Regions from separate parts of the Homo sapiens genome. Here region 2 is linked to region 1. Evidence: fine-mapped expression QTL. A gene starts in region 1. The other region holds a variant in brackets. All regions are shown on one strand. Distances are between the middles of the regions.

The links.
Region 2: its variant is fine-mapped to the expression of KCNQ4 in spinal cord (GTEx, PIP above 0.99).

Annotation. Positions count from the first base shown.
Region 1 is chr1:40,780,958-40,786,317 of GRCh38, forward strand. It overlaps KCNQ4 (potassium voltage-gated channel subfamily Q member 4), which reads left to right and starts at 2,830. Exons shown (of 14, transcript NM_004700.4): 1 at 2,830-3,450. The coding sequence starts at 3,137.
Region 2 is chr1:40,818,111-40,823,470 of GRCh38, forward strand. KCNQ4 (potassium voltage-gated channel subfamily Q member 4) reads left to right here. Exons shown (of 14, transcript NM_004700.4): 3 at 54-180; 4 at 395-570; 5 at 1,237-1,362; 6 at 1,765-1,875; 7 at 2,055-2,150; 8 at 4,204-4,292. Among named protein-coding and RNA genes, the nearest start is that of KCNQ4, 37 kb to the left of the region's middle. RefSeq lists enhancers at 393-442, 2,647-3,148, 2,860-3,004, 2,902-3,046, a silencer at 763-822 and cis regulatory regions at 2,923-2,940, 2,965-2,982. The variant A/G (reference allele first, on the strand shown) is at 3,101.

The sequences.
Region 1 (5,360 bases):
TAGGCTGTGTAGACTTAGGTGAGTCCCTGTGCCTCTCAGAGCCTCAGCTGTCTCAAGCAAGCTGCTGCTCTCTGGCCCAAAAGGGACTGGGCCTGGCACACAGATGGCACTCAGCAAATGGAAGCACTCGCCCTCCCACCCTTCCTCTCAGTCAATACTTGCTCCATTGATGGCTGATGGGGACAGTGATGAATTACAGAAGATCTTGGAGCCCTGCCCACTTCTTGCACAGATGGGGAAACAAGTCCAGGGTGGGGAAGAGACTTGCCCAGGTGGGAGTGAGTCTTAGTGAGTGCGTCTGTCTCCTCAGTGGGGCAGGGAAGCTTTCGCAGTGTTACCAGGGTGGAGACAGGGCCTGGGGGTGGAAAGGAAACTGCTGAGGGTGGGGTCAGGGGAACAGGTGGGAGAGGGAAGGAGGAGGGTAGGGAACCACGGTGTCCAGTCCCCTCCAGCAGAGGGGCCAATTGAGGGAGCCTGAGACAGCTGTTTGCTCAGAAAAGTGTCTTAGTCACTAAAGGTTGTGGTGGGGAAAGTCCGTCCTCCCAGTCATGTCCTGGGAATCCGGATGGCGCAGGAAGGCCACCCGGTGACCCTAAGAGTGGCCACCTGTCCTCTCTGAACTGGACTTTCTCTTCTGGCCCTTCCACTCTTCCATGTGTACACATATGCCAAGTAAATTTGCTGTGGCCTCCTGGAACCATCTCCCCCATCCCTCTCACCCCTTAGGAAGAGTTCTGTGTCCCTCCATTACCCATACGCCCGCAGGAGAAACAGGCTTCTATGCCCTATGAAAGTCCTTCCTGAGATCTAACTTCCATCCCTCTAGCTGCAACCACAGTCTCTTTCCTCTTTCTGCTGCCTTTGAGCAGGTAATCTGGAGCTGGAGTTGGGAATGATGAGACACTCCCTGCAGTGAGGGCTCCTCACAAGGTGGGGAAGGGACCTTTGTAGTCCCCCAGCTGGGAAGAGAGCCATGGGATCCAGAGGTGATGCTGAGCTTGAAGATTAGATTTCCCAGAACAGACCCAGTTTCAGATATTCTGGGTGTTAAGGGCAACCTGAATTCAAATTCCATTTCTGCTACAGAACAAGAGCCTCAAAAAGACCCCCTAGAAACACCCCCAGGGCGCTTGCAACTGCTTTCCTGTGCACCTTTCATGTCCTAGACCTTAGTCCCATTTCCCAGGATCTATGATTGAGAAGAACCAGCCAGGCAGTTCCACAGAGGGAGGACAGTGCTGCATATTTTGGGGGTGCCATCTTCAGCTCATAGAGAGAAGATGGGTTAACTCAGCCCAGGCACCACATCCCTAGTGGGGCCTTGGGGTCCAGAAACTGTCCCCAGCTTCCAGTAGAGGATCCGGGCATAACCTGCCCTGGGGCACCCGGCTCTGGCCCTGGGCACACCTGGACCAGGAGCAGCAGAAGAGATTCAGGTCAGACCCCAGAGGGCACCCCCAGCTAGGCAGAGGGGAAAGGATCACTATGGGGTAGGGGTGTGGGCCGGTTGCCAAGCCCAGTTTAGGGACCCCACAGATCCCTGCAGCCCACGGCCCTGCCTCCCTCCCTCCCTCACTGGCGCTCAGCAGATCAATGCTGCCTTTGCTGACAGCTGAGAATCGAGCTCGCCTTCCCGCCCCTTCCCCCGCCCCTCCCGCTCGGCTTCGTCCCTCGAGATCCTCCCGGAGGAACCGGGAAGAGTTTGCTGCGGAAGGCTCACCCTGGGGCAGGGCCTGCGGAGGGAGCGGCTGGTGTGGCCGCAGCTTTCCGTGGAGGAAGAGGGAAAGAGGATCGGGAAACCCAAGTTACCAACCCTGTGCAGGGCCCAGGAGGGCTAAAGGAGAGGGACTGCCCCCTACAGCCAGAGAGATGGAGGTCGGGGACTAAGAAAAACTTTCCAGCTGGAGAGGGAATGCCCTGGGACAAAGTATCCCCTTTTCTGGCTGGGATTCTGTGGGCCTTGGGTAGGGGGTGTGTGTCCCCTCTAAGGCTGGCTTAGAGCTCATCTCCCAACACTCCATCTGCCCAAACCCAGTTCCCTGACCTGGGAGTGGGGCAGGGGAGCAGGCCCCTCCATCGGGGAGGATCCTCTTCTGGGCAGGGTGGCTCTTCCCCCATCACGATGAAGGGAAGCTCAGAGGTGGCAGTTGGTGGGAGAAAGACACACCCAGGCCCACTGTGTTCCACACACCCTGATGCTGCCTAGCAGCCCGTGGGCTCCAGGCCTTTCAGGTAAGAGCAGGACAACCGCCGCTGCCCACCCAGCCACACACAGCACTGGGCACACTTTAAGCACCCGCACCAGGCACACAGTGCTCGACCCCAACGGACACACCTCATCCCCTTCGGACTCCACCTCCACTTTCGCAGCCACCCACACCCGACCCATAACTCACACCTCACTGACTCCATCCCCGCACCTGGTAGACCCACAGCCACCCACCCTGCACACACAAGTAGACGCCGTTCCACCGGTCTACACCTAAACTCCACGGGACACTGCGTCCCTTCCCCTGCCGCCCGCGGCCACAACTCCACATTCCACTTTCCACAAGCACACACGAGGCGTCCCACCCCGGGCTGGCCTTCGGGGCCACACTGCCCCACGCAGCGGTGGACACCACTTGCACGCGTCCGGCTTCCCGGCCCCGCGCGCTGCCCCCGCCACGCGGTTCGGCCCAGGCACCAACTCGGCCGCCCGTGCGCCCTGCCCCGCCGCCTGCTCCGCGCGTTCCCTCCCTCCGCCTCGCCTCGCTTGCTCGCTCGCTCCCTCCCGATTTGGGAAGGCGGCCGCGGGGCGGGCGGGGGAGGGGCGGGGCGGGGGAGGGTGACATGTGAGCGGCGCGCGCCGGTGGCAGGTGGAAAGGCGAGCGGCATGGAGCGCGTAATAAGAGAGTTGGAGTCGGAAAGAGCAGCCCCAGTCGCCGGGGAAGCGGGAGGTCAGTGCGGGCTCCGGCGGCCCCCAGGCTCCGAGCGCCCGCCCGCGGCCCCGGCCCGGCCCCTAGCCCCCGCCGCCCGCGCCCGCCCCGGGTCGCCCCTCTGGCCCCGGGTCCGAGCCATGCGTCTCTGAGCGCCCCGAGCGCGCCCCCGCCCCGGACCGTGCCCGGGCCCCGGCGCCCCCAGCCCGGCGCCGCCCATGGCCGAGGCCCCCCCGCGCCGCCTCGGCCTGGGTCCCCCGCCCGGGGACGCCCCCCGCGCGGAGCTAGTGGCGCTCACGGCCGTGCAGAGCGAACAGGGCGAGGCGGGCGGGGGCGGCTCCCCGCGCCGCCTCGGCCTCCTGGGCAGCCCCCTGCCGCCGGGCGCGCCCCTCCCTGGGCCGGGCTCCGGCTCGGGCTCCGCCTGCGGCCAGCGCTCCTCGGCCGCGCACAAGCGCTACCGCCGCCTGCAGAACTGGGTCTACAACGTGCTGGAGCGGCCCCGCGGCTGGGCCTTCGTCTACCACGTCTTCATGTGAGTTTGCGACCCCGCGCCCTTCCGCGTTTCCCCGCGCAAGCCTGGCCTCCCGGGGCACGGCCGCCCCGCCCTGGCTCCGCCTTCTACCCCCCTGCCTCAGGGCCGACCCTCATCTCTCTCCCCCCAGGCCTAAGCCCGGTTTCTGATCCCCTCGCTGAGCCCGACCCTAAGCCCTGATCTCCCAGGCCTGACCCCTGCTTGACCTCGCTTCTGACCTCCCCGCACCGCAACTGCTTATTTCCATCCTGACCGCCAATCTCTGCTCCTCTGTCCCAGGTACTCCCGACCGCCAGCTGCCTCCCCCAAGTCCGCTTGGCGAAGTCTGGGGCCCCTGGAGTGGGCGCCCTTTTCCTCTTCCCCACCCCTGCCTCCCTGTGTCCCAGACACAAAGAGGAACCCTTGGCTCCCACACGCTTCTGTCACCTGCTCCCCAGCTCTGAGCTATGAAGGGCTCCCCTCAGGGGTGCTCCTCTCCAGGGCGGCCCTCATTCCTACCCCTGCCCAGCTGACTGTGGGTGTGTGGGGGTCCCTGTGGGCCCCCTGGGCCCTGACACTCGCATATGCTGTGTCCGACTTGATCTGTGTCTTCGCTCAGTCTTCCCCTCCACCCTCAACTTCCCAGTGGCAACGGCGGCCGCCCTGCCTGCCCTGCCCTACCCTGCCGGCTTGGCCCAGCTCGCCTGCCTTGTTGGCTGGCAGCACCAGGCCTGGCTCTAGGCACCAGGGGAAAAAGAAAGAGGAGAGGGGTAGGTTTGGAAACACTGACGCTGCTGGGGCCCCCTCCTCCCTCTCACCAGGCTCCTACAACTTTCAAAAACACTGACCCCTCTTGGGTGTGAAGAGTGAATTTTGGCAGCTCAGAGCTCAGTCTTGGGGTACGGCCTGGCCCAGCCAGGAACATGAGAGGCCCCGCAGATATCAGTTGAAGGGCTGGGCCTGACGCTGGGACGCTCAGAGGTGCCCAGAGAGAGACCTCTGGTCCCTGGAAAATGTGTGGCTATTAATCCCTTTTTGCTGCCACCAGAGAGGGCCCTTTGGCGCTGGGGTCTCCTGGGTGGCCCACCTGCCTGCCCACCTGACTGTCTAGCAGCCCTCCTGCTGGCCTGGCTGTCCCTCTGCCAGCCTGAGTTTCCACCTGTGTGCGAGTTGGCCAGTCTGCTCACCCTTCCACCTAACTGTCCGCAGTCCTTCTGCTTGCCTGTTTCCATCCATCTGTGGCCTGTGCAGTTATCCGGGTGCCTGTCTGTGCATCTGCCTATCCACCTGTCCACCTGACTGTCCACTCTTCCTCTACCTGTCTTTTCCACCTGTCTCTGGGTCTGTCCTTCGGCCTGTTTCTCGGGTGCTTGCTGGCCTGCCTCTGCCCCATCTGAACTGGGCCCACATAATTTCAGAGGTGAAGGGGAGAAAGATGCGGCACAGGGAGGGGCAGGGGGGGAAGACAGCAGGGCTCTCTCGGCCATTAAGTGCGTTGGGGGTGGCAACCTTGACTCTGTGCAGAGACCTCAGCTGGGCTAGGCTGGGGCAGAGAGTTGAAATTGCTCAGGACATGAGGTCAAGCTTCGGTTCAGGGTCAACGGTTTGTAGTAGCCCAGTCCTTAGTGTCCATTGGGAGGCCTAGGATGAATATTTGTGGCTATAAAGAGGCCCGTTGGAGTGAGGAAGGCCCAGGGCTGGTGGAGTTGGGGGTGAGGGGATGGGGACTACTTCTTAGGAGTGGCTACAGAGCAGCCTCCTTGAGTGCCTAAGGAGGGTGAGACACCCCCCAGAGAACAACTGTGCCCTCCGTGGGCTCCTCTTGGGAAGGGACTTTTCCAAGGCATGGCAGGGCCTGGGGAAGCCAATAGGGCTCTGAGGTGGGGTCCTTACCCCCCCAGGCTTGGCCTTACAGCCCCCACAAGGGTCAG
Region 2 (5,360 bases), 37 kb after region 1:
TGGGCCCCAGTTCTGGAGACTGAGGACCAGAACTCAGGCCCCTGGTCCCACAGGAATTCGTGATGATCGTGGTTTTCGGCTTGGAGTACATCGTCCGGGTCTGGTCCGCCGGATGCTGCTGCCGCTACCGAGGATGGCAGGGTCGCTTCCGCTTTGCCAGAAAGCCCTTCTGTGTCATCGGTAATGAGGCGCGCCCCGCCCGACCTGACCCCTGACCCCAGGAGCCAGGGTGACGCCTTTACTCCCAATCCCGACTCTGACCCTGGAGACCCGCACAGATTCAGCGGACCCTCCCCCTCCCTCCCCAGTCCCCTGCCACATCCCCAGAAGTCCCCGCCTCCGGGTCCGTGCGCGGGGTAGGCTGGCTGTGATCTCGCCGCCCCCGCCCCTGCAGACTTCATCGTGTTCGTGGCCTCGGTGGCCGTCATCGCCGCGGGTACCCAGGGCAACATCTTCGCCACGTCCGCGCTGCGCAGCATGCGCTTCCTGCAGATCCTGCGCATGGTGCGCATGGACCGCCGCGGCGGCACCTGGAAGCTGCTGGGCTCAGTGGTCTACGCGCATAGCAAGGTGAGGCCTGCAAGCCGCGCGCGGAGACCCGAGGGCGTGTCTGGGGCACGACCAGAGCGGGCAGGGCGGAGAGGGCGAGGTCAGAGGGGCTGTCTCCGTGCTGGGAAGGGGTGTGGCCTGCGGGGGTTGGAGCCCTAGCAGGAGGCGAGGTCTAAGCGGGTGGGGCGAAGTGGATTCTGAATTAGGTAGGGGCGGGCCTAGGAGTCCGGACCGGATCAGGGGGCGGGGCCGGAGAGGCGGGGCTTGAGGGTTTCCCCTGGATGCTTCTGGGTTTGAAGGGACCACTCGTACCACAAAGTGGGCAGCTGAGGTGGGACTTGAGGGTGGGGCTGGAGCGGGGCTAGGGTGGGCCCCAGGTGGAAGCCTGAAAGTGGGACTTGGGGGACGGGGCAAGGTAGGCCGGGTGCTGGAGTCCTGAGCCTGGAACCTGGAGACTCAAGGCAGGCGGGGTGAGGGTGGGGGTGGGAATGGGGGTCGGGGTAGGGGGAGTGCTGGCGGTTTCGCGAAGGCCGGGGCAGGGTCGCCGTGATGGGAGGAGCTGAGAAAGAAAAGCGAGCCTGGGACTCCGGGAGATGGGGGACCTTTATCCCTTTCCCGTGTGGAAGCCCCCCACATCTCCCAGGCAGGCACAGCGCTCCTCACCGCGCCCCTCCGCCTGCCCCGCAGGAGCTGATCACCGCCTGGTACATCGGGTTCCTGGTGCTCATCTTCGCCTCCTTCCTGGTCTACCTGGCTGAGAAGGACGCCAACTCCGACTTCTCCTCCTACGCCGACTCGCTCTGGTGGGGGACGGTGCGTGAGGGTCTTTGTAGGGCTGCCCTTCTCCCTGGGATCCTCCCTGGGAACTTCCCGAGGTCTGCCCATCGTGACTCCTGACTCAGGGTTGAGCGGGCCTGCCCCTGCCCTCTCACTAGAGCTGGGACCCCCCTGAGACCAGCCCCAATGCTAACCCCCCAACCTGCTCTGGTGGACCTGCCTCTGTCCCCAGCTAGCCCCGCACATCAAGACCTTGTGACTATACCCCTTTCCCCTGACCAGCCCAGGAGAGGGAGAATCCATCTATGACCCTAACCAGCCCCCGTGGGTGACCAGGGGCCCCTTCCCTCATGATCAGGCTCCTACCTGCCTGTACCCCCAACAAGCCGTAGGTGGCCCCCGTGACCAGTCCTGCCTGTAACCTGTTTGTGTCTCCAGATTACATTGACAACCATCGGCTATGGTGACAAGACACCGCACACATGGCTGGGCAGGGTCCTGGCTGCTGGCTTCGCCTTACTGGGCATCTCTTTCTTTGCCCTGCCTGCCGTGAGTTGCCTCCTGCTCAGTTGGTGGGGGAGGCTGAGGGTGGGACCTGCTCACCCCTGTCACACATTTGCCTGGGGAGCCTGGGGTACCTCAGAGGGGCAAGGATGGGGACACCCTTGCAGCCTCTTACTGCCCCACCACTGCCAGCACATTCCCCCAACCATGCCCTATCCCTCTAGGGCATCCTAGGCTCCGGCTTTGCCCTGAAGGTCCAGGAGCAGCACCGGCAGAAGCACTTCGAGAAGCGGAGGATGCCGGCAGCCAACCTCATCCAGGTACAAGATGCCCGGGAAGAAGCCCTAGGAGCAGGGCCGTGTGACTGCACTGGTGTGTCAACCCTGTGTGCTGACCCATGTCCCCAGCCCAACTGTGACACCACTTTGAAGCTCAAAAGGGCTATGTGACTTTCCTGGAGCCACATGCCAAGTCACACACAGAGCCAGGATGCTCACTGACAGTGCCAGAAACTTCCCCCTGCACCAAATGCCTGGTTTAGGGCTAGCCAGAACTGCCCTATTGCCCAACTCCAGCCCAACTTCACAGGGCCTGGGGAGGGGCGGAGCCCAGACAGGAGCTGGGAGGCCTCTGGTGGAGACCCACTGCTGCCCCCATCAGCTGTGCAGCAGTAAGCCTGCCCCACTTCCAGCACCTTCATTCATTCATTCATTCCACAAGCACTCACACAAATGAAGAGAGGATGGTGCAGACAGGGCTTTTAGGAATCTCAACATTTAGCAGGTGGGTGGGCCTGCAAAGTTGAGCTGGGCAAGGAGACAGAAGGAACAGCCAGAGGGGTGGGTAGGAAGCCAGGAGTGTGTGGTCTCAGTTTCCCTCTGTGCCATGGCGTGTTGTGACTGTGTGTGGGCTGAGGCCAGGGCTCTGATTTTCTGTGACCCTGGGACTAGGCCTTGGCTTTTTCTAGTCAGGGGTGTGTGTAAGGGAACTCCTTGCAGGAAATGCTTCAGGGAATACTGGCCCAGTCCACCTCTGCCTGCTCCCTAGCCTGTCACCCTCTGAGCCCCAAACCCAAGCCTCACTCAGCCCTTCCTTATCTCTCCTCCCCAGGGTAGAACCCTCCTCCCTGTCGCTGTTATCTCCAGCCACCAGCTCAGCCTTTTCTTCTTAGCGTCCCTTGGGGCACAATGGCCACTGTCCCCTGGGAGCTGGCCTTCTGAGGGGCATTGTAGGGGCAGGCGGCTGGCACTGTCCATGCCAAGAGACAGCT[A/G]GTATTGTGGTGCCCATAATTAATGAGACAGCTCTGGCAGCTGCTCCCCAGCCCATGCCAGGGGCCTAGGCAAGCAGGAAGTAAAAATATTCCTGTCTTAGGAGGGTGCCTGGCTGGTGAGGTCAGCAGTGGCAGCCCCTTAAGGACAAGAGGCATCCAAAGAAGGGAGGCGTCCAGGGCCCAGCTCTGCCTTGTCCTGCCTAGCAGCCTCCATGCCTCCCTGCTCTCACTGATGGCCACACTCACAGTCCCTCCCTGGCTCTTCCTACGTGGAGGGAGAGGGACAGTCTCTCCTCCTGTCTGACTTTCATCCCTCCTGCTGCAGAGGAAGCTCGGCAAGCCCATGGATGCTGAGGGGTTGGTAGGTAATGCTTTTCCTCCCCTCTCAGTCCTTAGTATTCCCATGGGCAGTGACAGGCAGCTGGGAAAGATGGAGTGGCATTGCTAGTAATAATAATGACATTCTGCAAACATTTGCAAAGCACCCACATGTGCCAGACACTATATTTGCACTGAGAATGCAGCGGTAACAAAGACACAGCTTGCAGTCTAGGGGGAGAGAAAGTTATCAGTCAAATACACAATGAATAGGTATTCATCAAATGTGATAAGGGGAATAACAGGAGTGTTTAACAGAGGAACCTGGCATGAAGTGCCTACTATATACCAGGCACTGAGCTTGGCATTTAATATACAACTGTTCATTTAATCCTCACAACACCCTGGTAGGCAAGTAGTGTTACATGCGTTTTACAGGTGAAGAAACTGAGGTCCTGAAGCTTTACTTAATTTGTCCTCACTAATAAGGGGCAGAGCTGGGATTGGAAACCCATGTCTGCCTGACAACAAAACTCCAGCTCTTAACCTCTATGCTCTATGGCCCCTGGCTCTGACATTGATCTGCTTTGTCCCCTCGGGGAAGTCGTTTCTCCCTAGGCCTTACTTTCTTGGCTGCCCCTGTCAGTGGCTGTGGAATTGGAACTGGCCTCTGGCTCTGGGTAACCCACAACTGGACCAAGGACTGGGTTCTTTCAGGGGAGAGGGCTGGTGGGGACTGAGAGGCCTCACTGATGCCCCATCCCCCACGTCCCCCATACCACCAGGCTGCCTGGCGCCTGTACTCCACCGATATGAGCCGGGCCTACCTGACAGCCACCTGGTACTACTATGACAGTATCCTCCCATCCTTCAGGTAGGTCCTGCTGGGGGTGGGGGTGGGTGGGGGGCTGGCAGCAATGCCCTTTGAGGACAAGTGGCTGAGACTCAACCCTGGAGGGTGGAAAGGGGGTGATGGCTCCCAGGGGAGCACCCTGGGCTGGCTCTGCAGATCCTATGTAATTCAGAGCCTGGAGTGTCCTTTATTCCACTCTGCTATGCCCAGGGAAGAGGTGGATACTGGACATAGGGCATTGGTGAAGCCCTGCCCCATGGCTGAACCCCGGCCCTGGAGTGCTGGCAGTGTGCATGCTCACCCATAGGTGATGCCATCTAGGGCAGTGATACAGCCAGCTCGTCTCCCCTCAGTCCTGAATGGGGGACAGAGTTAGTGGATATTGCAGCTGGTTGGAGAAAGTGTGGGATGGGCAGAAACATGTGTTCCAGACTTAGGTGCATGCTCCTACCCTGAACCCCCATGTAGGAATATGTGCCCACTTTTACTGGGCCAGTCAGCAGCCTCAGGGCCCAGAAGTGGGTCTGCCCCACTGGCCCGGGCCAGGCTAAGACTGCATGGGGGTGGCACCAGGAGAGGGATTATTAATAGCATCACAAAGGTGCGTGTGGCCAGGTGCCTGGCTAGGCCCTCAGGCAGGAATGAAAACCATGGAGCCCAGCTCGGTCCCACGGGCAGGCGGGCATCAAGCTTGTGGCTGGGGCAGGATGCTGTGCTCAGCGCTTCTGCGGGTGCCTTTTTTGCCTCATTAGTTCTCCAGGAGAAGCTGTTGCGCGATTCCACTCGCCTCTGCACCTGGCTTCCCCATCCCTGCGCCCTCCCAGCCCTAGGGGCTTCCCAGGGGAGAAGCAGGAGAGAAGGGGCCGGGAAGAGGGGCTCCCAGCATCACACTGGTGCCCCCACATCTCTCCACCCGGCAGAGGCAAGCTCCTACCTCAGAGTGGGAAGGTGACTAGATTAGAAGAGAGGCCTTTTGTTCAAGGCTGGGCATTCGAGAGTGGGGCAGGGCTGATTTGTAAGAAATACAATGTGTATGAGGGAAGATCTGGGGGTGGGGGTGGTCAGATGGTCTAGGACCTCTGCCCAGAG